Regions from separate parts of the Homo sapiens genome. Here region 1 is linked to region 2. A link means that fine-mapping ties the variant in region 2 to the expression of a gene that starts in the linked region. Tissue or cell type: whole blood. Region 2 holds a variant in brackets; the other region holds the start of a gene. Each region is shown on its reference strand, or each on the opposite one.

Region 1 (4,386 bases), not on the chromosome of region 2:
CAAGACTCTGTCTCAGAAAAAAAAAAAGAAAGCCCCTTCGGCTGTGGTTTTTGTTTATGGCAGCCCAAGCGGACTCCTACAGGGACACAGACCCAGACCCTGATGCTGGAGGGGAGACAAGAGGATGTAAATCAAACCTCCTCAAGTCCCTGTCAAAGGACAACTATGGGCTGGCCTCGGTGGCACATGCCTATAACCCCAGCACTTTGGGAGACTACAGCAAGAGGATCTCTTGAGCCCAGGAGTTCGAGAACAAGTTGGGCATCATTGCAAGACCCCATCTCTGGAAAAAAAAATTGCTAGGTGCTGTGGCATGCACCTGTGGTCCCAACTACTTGGGAAGCTGAGGTGGCAGGATCACTTGAGCCCAGAGGTCAAGGACGCAGGGAGTTGTGATTGTACCACTGCACTCCAGCCTGGGTGACAGAGCAAGACCCTGTCTCTCTCTCCCTTTTTATTTTTTTTTGAGACAGAATCTCACTGCGTCGCCCAGGCTGGAGTGCAGTGGCATAATCTCGGCTCACTGCAACTTCCACCTCCCGGGTTCAAGCAATTCCTGTGCCTCAGCCTCCCGAGTAGCTGAGATTGCAGGCGCCCACCATCAGGCCTGGCTAATTTTTGTATTTTTAGTAGAGACGAGGTTTCACCATGTTGGCCAGGCTCGTCTCAAACCCCTGACCTCAAATGAGCCACCCATCTCGGCTTCCCAAAATGCAGGGATTACAGGCATGAGCCACCATGCTTGGCCAAGACCCTGTCTCTTTAAAAAAAAAAAGAAAGAAAAACAAAAAAAAAAAAAAGGAAAAAAGTACAACTATGGCAGGGCTGCAAAGGAGGCAGGAGGAGGTGGCAGAGCAGAAGGCTGAGGGATAAGAGGAGTTCACTATGCAGAGAGGGACTTGAGAGACTTCTAGGCAGCGAACACTGTGTATGAGCCCAAGAGGGAACTACAGGGCCCTGGACCATCCGGGCCCCGGTCCTCCACGGGCCTCGAGAGAAGGGGAGTTCCTGTCCCCTGACCCCAGCATCTTGCTCTGTCTCGGCCACCCCAAACCAAAGACTGCACTGGTCCCCAAGGTCAAGTCTCCCCCTGCCTCTGGTCAAGTAAGGAGTGCCACCAACTTTGAACCAGTCCCTTTCCACCTCCAGCTGCTCCAGACCCCGGATCTGGAAGGGGGCTGGCCATGCTGGGGTCTCTGGGTGGAGCTGTCTGGCCAGGACTTCCGTCTGAGATGGGATTTCTGGACAGAACAATGGAGCGCAGAAGCTCCAGCAACGTGTGCTCTGCAGGGAGCCCAGGTCAGGTTTGGAGAGGAGTTGCCCCGGATCCTGCAGAGCTTCCCCACCTGACTGCCACCCCTCCCAGCACCTACCCGCACCACTGCTCTCCGCCAGCCCCCACTTCTAGTACCTTGGCGCAAGGCAGGCTTCCTTTGAGAAACCCATTGACCCTTTCCTGCCACCTCTGAAGCTCTGCTCAAAGCATCTTTGTTTGAGGCTGGTCCGGTAAAGCCACAGCCCCGCCCCGGCCCTGTTCATTACTCCTTGGCTGAGCCTCGCGCTCTCCTGGCACTTTAAGCCCCCAGGCCCTCCCTCAACCCCAGTCAGCAGAAGGCGCCAGGCTGTGAGGGTGAGAGCAAGCCAGGGGCTGTGGGGGCTGCAGGGGCAGCCAGTGGGTGAGGATGAGGGTGAGGACGAGGAGGGGTGAAGGATGGGGGAGGGGGTGAGGATGAGGGAAGTGGTGAAGATGAGGGAGGGGAGTGAGGAGGAAGGGGGTGAGGATAGAGGAGGGGGTGAGGATGAGGGAGGGGGTGACGATGGGGGGGTGAAGGATGGAGGAGGGGTGATGAGAGAGGAGTGAGGATGAGGGAGGGGGTGAAGGATGAGGGAGGGGGTGAGGATGAGACAGGGGTGAGGATGAGGGAGGGGGTGAGGATGAGGGAGGGGAGTGAGGAGGAGGGGGCTGAGGATGGAGGAGGGGGTGAGGATAGAGGAGGGGTGAGGATGAGGGAGGGGTGAGGATGAGAGAGGGGTGAGGATGAGAGGTGAGGATGAGGGAGGGGGTGAGGATGAGGGAGGGGAGTGAGGAGGAGCAGGGGTGACGATGGAGGACGGGGTGAGGATAGAGGAGGAGGTGAGGATGAGGGAGGGGGTGAGGATGAGAGAGGGATGAGGATGAGGGAAGGGGTGAGGATAAGGGAGGGGAGTGAGGAGGAGGGGGGTGAGGATGGAGGAGGGAGTGAGGATGAGGGAGGGGGTGAGGATGAGGGAGGGGGTGAGGATGGGGGAGGGGGATGAGGGAGGGAGTGAGGATGACCGAGGGGGGTTAGGCTCCAGGGCTTCTGTCGAGACCAAGGATGCCCAAATATCTGGGTGGTGGGTGCTGCATACCTGGGCCCTGGGCAGAACGAAGGGTATACAGCCTGGGCCACCAGGATAAGTCCAGAACCCACCAGGAGCTGAGGACAGACAGAAGGACCACGGAGGGGGTGACGGGCTGGTGTGAGGATTGGTGCCCCTGGGCCAGGACTCTCCTCTCTTCTCCCTGCTGGCTCCAGACCAGAGTCCAAGCCCTAGGCAGTGCCACCCTTACCCAGCCCAGCCTTGAAGACAGAATGAGAGGGGTTTCCTGTCTCCAGGTCCTGCTCCTTCTGGTGCTGGGTGAGTGGGGACAGGGACTGGGGGTGAGGGCCGCAGACACCTTGGCTCCCAGTTCTCCCATCTCACTGCTCCCTGGGCCGGGCTCCCTGGAGCACTCTTGGGCTTTCTAATCTTGATTCCAAGGGCTCAATCCTCTCTGCCACTGACCTTGACCTCACCACACCTCGATGTGCTTGTCGGTGTCATGCTCATACGCCCTTGCCCCCTGCACCTTCACAGTGCTCTGGGGAGGGTTAAATAAGATAACAGACGGCACGAAAGCCTGGCGCAATGTCAGGGCAACATTGTTTCACCCTCCTTCCTCATCTCTGGCCTCCCCTCCAACTCCGTTATTTGACACCAAATCTATAATCTGGTCCCTTCCCTGCTTCCTCCTCCAGGAGCTGCTGGGACTCAGGGAAGGAAGTCTGCAGGTGAGGAAGCCTCGGAGTCCACCCGAGTCAGCCCCTCCTGGACCTCGGCCCCGTGTCTCCCCACCAACACCTGCCTCCCAGGCCCCAGGTCCTCAGCCAACCCTCACCGCCCCTGGTCCTTTTCTAGCCTGCGGGCAGCCCCGCATGTCCAGTCGGATCGTTGGGGGCCGGGATGGCCGGGACGGAGAGTGGCCGTGGCAGGCGAGCATCCAGCATCGTGGGGCACACGTGTGCGGGGGGTCGCTCATCGCCCCCCAGTGGGTGCTGACAGCGGCGCACTGCTTCCCCAGGTCAGCGCTCACCGAGGGCCCAGGCGGGGTGTGCAAGGAAGGCAAGGCCCGCAGAGGACCGGGCGTGGCCTGGCAGAGGCGTTGGGGTCGAGGCGGGCTGGAGGGGGTCGAGGACCCGGTGCTGGAAGTAGTCCCCCGCTCCTGTCCTGCAGGAGGGCACTGCCAGCTGAGTACCGCGTGCGCCTGGGGGCGCTGCGTCTGGGCTCCACCTCGCCCCGCACGCTCTCGGTGCCCGTGCGACGGGTGCTGCTGCCCCCGGACTACTCCGAGGACGGGGCCCGCGGCGACCTGGCACTGCTGCAGCTGCGTCGCCCGGTGCCCCTGAGCGCTCGCGTCCAACCCGTCTGCCTGCCCGTGCCCGGCGCCCGCCCGCCGCCCGGCACACCATGCCGGGTCACCGGCTGGGGCAGCCTCCGCCCAGGAGGTAAGGCAGGAGGGCGGGGCTCCGAGGCATCCGGGAGCCCCCACGTCCTCCTCCATCTGACTGGAAATCCCAGCCCCTCACTGCCCCAATCCAGGACCCAGCGCGGCTTCTAGGGAACAAAACCTCCTCTCACTCAGAGCTCAGCTTCTCCCACTGGCCCCCGCTCCACGCCTTCCTCTCAGAGGTCCCTCCTCTTCCCCCAGTGCCCCTCCCAGAGTGGCGACCGCTACAAGGAGTAAGGGTGCCGCTGCTGGACTCGCGCACCTGCGACGGCCTCTACCACGTGGGCGCGGACGTGCCCCAGGCTGAGCGCATTGTGCTGCCTGGGAGTCTGTGTGCCGGCTACCCCCAGGGCCACAAGGACGCCTGCCAGGTGTGCACCCAGCCTCCCCAGCCTCCGGAGTCCCCTCCCTGTGCCCAGCACCCTCCCTCCCTGAACTCCAGGACCCAGGACATCCCAACTCAGGCTCAGGATCCTGGCCTCCAACCTAGAGGCACCACGCCAGGGGTCTGGAACCCTGAGAACTGAAGTCCTGGGAGGGCTGGGACTTAGGCTCCTCTTTCTCCTGCAGGGTGATTCTGGGGGACCTCTGACCTG
Region 2 (4,386 bases):
CACAAGCCACATTCAAGTGCTCAAAAGCCACATGTGGTTGGTGGCTACCTACTCGACAGTGCCTATAATGAACATTTCCATCACTGCAGAAAATTACATGGAAAGCACTCCTATGTATTTCTTCTTAGAGGTAACATGTTTAAACAAAGACCATATTAAATAGCAGCAATCCTCTTTCATAAAAAATATTTTCTCCTCTTTCAGAGATTAGTATTCTTTTAAAGGTCCATATCTACCCTTTGGGATGAAATATATGTTATTTTTTCCATATATCATATTTTATGTTAACTATACTTACAACCTATGTCTCCTTTCTGTATTATCTCCCAACATATATTCTTATTTCTTCATAAATAATTTTCAGTATGTTAGGAATAATTCTCAACTATACACAATTCAGAAAAAGATTTAGAAAAAAAAGAAGTATGTGAAGTCCTTCTAAGGTCTGTTTGTCCCCAAGCATCATATTAAAAATAAAACCATAAATAGTAATAAGGATTGTACTGGTAACCTCCATTCATATTACTAGGTTACCTCCCATTTTGCTGATATTAACAGAAGAGACACATTTTTAATAAGGAAAACCACTGACATCGTATAGGGCAACGCTACGCCTTATGTTAGCATTCGCTATGACAGTAACACCATCTCCATCCACCTCTTCAACCTAGCCAAACAATGGGAAATAAGCCTAGATCCTTCCTGTCATCATTCATTTAAAAAATATTCAAGGTTAACAGACACTGTGTATACAGTGTTGAACGAAGCAGATGTGGCCCTGTCCTCGTGCAGCTTGCAGTTTGAATAAACGCCCCAGTACATCCCACATATTCAGTGCATTTCCCAACCTGCTAATGCTCTCTCCCAGATATTTATGGGTCTAACTCCTCCTCCCTGTTTACACTAGCTCTGAAGTAATCAGACCTTCATGGTTTAGTGAACCACAAAAAATTAGAAATCTAATCAGTTCTCCTAATTCTGGTCTCAACGCTTTCACACTACTGATTGAATGATCTTATAAAACACAGATTACATCATACCTCTCCCTGATTAAAATCCTTAAAGGACCTCCCATAGCTTTCAGGTTCCAGTCCAAATGCTCCAGCATGCTTGAAGGCACTAATAATCAAATCCTTATTGACCTGTCCATTCTCAACTCCCTTAACTCCCTTCCCTCTATCCCCTGAAGCACTCACAAACACCCCCATTAGGTATATCAAACTACTCAAAGTTTACCAACCATCCATCAGCTATCTCATACCTTCCTCGCCTTCACACCCATGGTCTCTTCCCTGGCCTCCTTATCCCCTCACTGTAGAGGCTGGCCTCTTTTTCATCTCAGTTCCTTTGTTATCACCCATCTTCGGAAGCTTCCTGACCCTCAACCCTCCCTCTTCAGGCTGATTTCAAAGCCCTTGCTAGCAGTACCACCACATCAACATGGGCAGAAGCTACAAAAGTGCCAAGCACGCTACTATTCTTATGTGTTCACCTCCCTCTCTTTCTGGCGACTGGAGCCTTGCCATGTGAAGTGGAATCCTGAGAGACAGGACCCCTGGCACCCCCGGGAGCTGGTAAGAGACGCAGACTCTCAGGCTCACCTCAGACCTCCTGCACCAGAATCTGCCTTTATTAACAAAGGCCCCAAGTGATTCCTGTGCATGTGAAAGTTTGGGAAGTCCTGCCCTCAGACTCTGAGCTCCTCCTACAGGATAGCACACTGACCACTCAGTTAATATAATGGATCAACAACAAATGGCACATGTTACAAAGAATATTATAAAGCAATACAAAGATATGTCACTTAAAGAAAGTAGTCTTGACATTTGTGTCTGACAAATAAACAATACTGACTTCATTCAAAGAATTATGAACAGCCCTTAGTGACAAATTTAATCTGTAACAGTTTACAAGGAGTGGGTATCTAAAGATGGTTTAATTTTAAAGATATGCCCATCTGTTTGCCAATCATTTGTGCAAGTCAAAAAAATGCAGTTAACATTAATATCTAATGCTATGTTACATAACATACTATTTCACAGGTTTCTTGCAGAAATCTTTCAGTTATTTCTACATAACTTTGAAGACTCTGGATATTCTGAGTAGCCTTTAT[G/TG]ATAAAAAAAAAAAGCTGTTCTTTTGTTCCTTCATGCAGTATTGAGGCTAACGTTTCCTTTCAAGGCAACTAATGAAATAGCACTTGGCTAACAGCTTATACTAAGTGCATGCCCACAGCACTAGCTTTTTCCAAAGTGGTCAAAAGGAGTATATTACCCCATACATAAATTATGCCACAAAAGCACAAGGATCATGAAAATTTGTGTCCTTTACACCCTGCAATTCAAAATTCAAATACCTCTCTGAAGCTAACTCCTAAAGGCTAAGCCCACTGAGAAGGTGGCCAGCACCTTGACCCTAACGTGGAGACAGCTGACCTGCTGCCGCAGTGCAGACACTAAGAAAATATGTCCAGCAGGGTCTTCATTCCATGTACACAACATGTCCTAGGAACAGATGGGCACACATTCTAATAGCACCTGAAGTACTCAACATTGTATGGCAAAAGAGAAATGAAGACAAACATGTATCTATATATACCATACCTAGGTGTAGATCACATATGTAGCTACATAAAATATGTGTATCTATCCCATATCTTTTTTTTTTTTTTAAGAGACAGGGTCTCGCTCTGTCACCCAAGCTGGAGTGCAGTGGCACAATCATAGCTCACTGCAGTCTCCCAACTCCTGGGCTCAAGTAATCCTCCCAGTGCGGGCTCCCAAGTAGTTGGGACTATAGTTGTGTACCACCACACCCAGCTAATTTTTTTTTTTTCCTGGGAAACAAAGTCTCACTATGTTGCCCAAACTGGTCTTGAACTCCTAGGCTCAGGGAATCCTCCTGCCTCAGCCTCTTAAAGTGCTGGGGTTACAGGTATGAGCCACTGCACCAGGTCTCATATCTTTTGAATGTTATCCTAATTAATTGTAATATGGTAGAGAAGAAAATCAAATGAAGAGACAGGTCTAGAAATAAGTAAATGAAAACTTTTTAAGTAATTTATTTTGGATAGGAAAAAAATTAAATTTCAGAAATGTATTTCAACCCACCTGGCAAGAATGCTTACAGTGCAGACTTATGGAAGAGTAATGTATATTTTACAAAATTTGCTGATTGCTAGTATGTATCTTGCTTAATATTATAAAATATCCTGGGTTTTGTAAAGCCCAGGGTGGTGTATAAAGGCTAGTAACACCATGTTTATTAGCCTGATTTTAAAAAAATCACCATTAGGAAAGATTTTCCCACTTATTCTAGACTTATTTCAAGCTACTGACTTGACACACAGAAGCTCCAGGTGATGTCAAGCCTACAAAAAGTGAGGGTGGAACAGAAGGAAGGGAAGGAAGGAGCTGCCCTGTGGCCATGCTCTGTCTGGGGACCCCGTGGCAATCACCAGCTCCTATAAGGCTGACACTGAACCTCTGGAGGAGGATGCAGAGGTGAGGCAAGGGCAAGCATGCAGAGGGGCTGAGAAAGCAGCAAACAGCTAGCTGCTCTTGTAAGAAGCGTGCTCTTCGTGTACTGACTGCAGTTGTCACTGATTAACTAACTGATTTGGCAATTTCCTACATTCTTCTACATTTTAAAAAATTTCTGGAAAGCTGAAAAGGGATCTTTTTTCATATTCTGGGGGAGTTTAAAAGTGTACTGAATCCTGCCTGGTTTGAAAGGCAAGGGATAGAAAGGGTGTAAACAGTCTTTTCTGATATACACCACTGACATTCTTTTCCTTAAAGGGAAAAAAACAAAACAAAACCCTGGGCAACATCACAACTGAAAAGAATTTGTCTATTCTCTTTGCTAGAACAGTGCACATGTGATAGGAAGGGAGTCTTATCCATCATGAATAAACCTGAGCACAGGACAGGCAAAGCATCACAGCATACCAATGGCAGGGGCCACACAGGGAGCTCCAGGGCTTTCGAAGACCCATGCCTGTTAAGGCAATGCAAAAAAGAAATACACAGGAATTATAAAAATTCAGATTTCCATTAGGGAAGCAAGCAATACAAACAGGAGTTCAAACTGTAAAGGAAGGTTGAGATCTTTGGAAGAGTATTAGAAAAAGTATTTTGGAAAACTGCACCCAATCTCAAAAAGGTAAACCTACAGGAAGAAAAAAAATGAAGAAAACAAATGTAACTTATTCAGTGACTATGACACTAAATTTTGGTTTCAAATCAAGTTATATTTGACAAAGGAGATGGAATTAAGGCTGAAATACAGAGTTAACAGTTGCATATCCAATATTTCACAGTCATTTCAACTTATAACAAATTTGGGAAACATTTTTTCTATGCAGTAGTCCCCCTTCATCCTGGGGAT

The links. PIP is the estimated chance that this variant, and not a neighbour inherited with it, causes the effect.
Region 1: it holds the start of PRSS33, and the variant in region 2 is the best candidate, but not a certain one, in a credible set for the expression of PRSS33 in whole blood (TOPMed, PIP 0.53).

What each region holds. Positions count from the first base shown.
Region 1 is chr16:2,784,777-2,789,162 of GRCh38, reverse strand. PRSS33 (serine protease 33) reads left to right here and starts at 1,603. Exons shown (of 7, transcript NM_152891.3): 1 at 1,603-1,630; 2 at 2,559-2,661; 3 at 3,042-3,074; 4 at 3,202-3,364; 5 at 3,517-3,788; 6 at 3,992-4,161; 7 at 4,361-4,386. The coding sequence starts at 2,616.
Region 2 is chr8:60,731,520-60,735,905 of GRCh38, reverse strand. All of the region lies in intron 1 of CHD7 (chromodomain helicase DNA binding protein 7), which reads right to left. Among named protein-coding and RNA genes, the nearest start is that of CHD7, 55 kb to the right of the region's middle. The variant G/TG (reference allele first, on the strand shown) is at 2,114.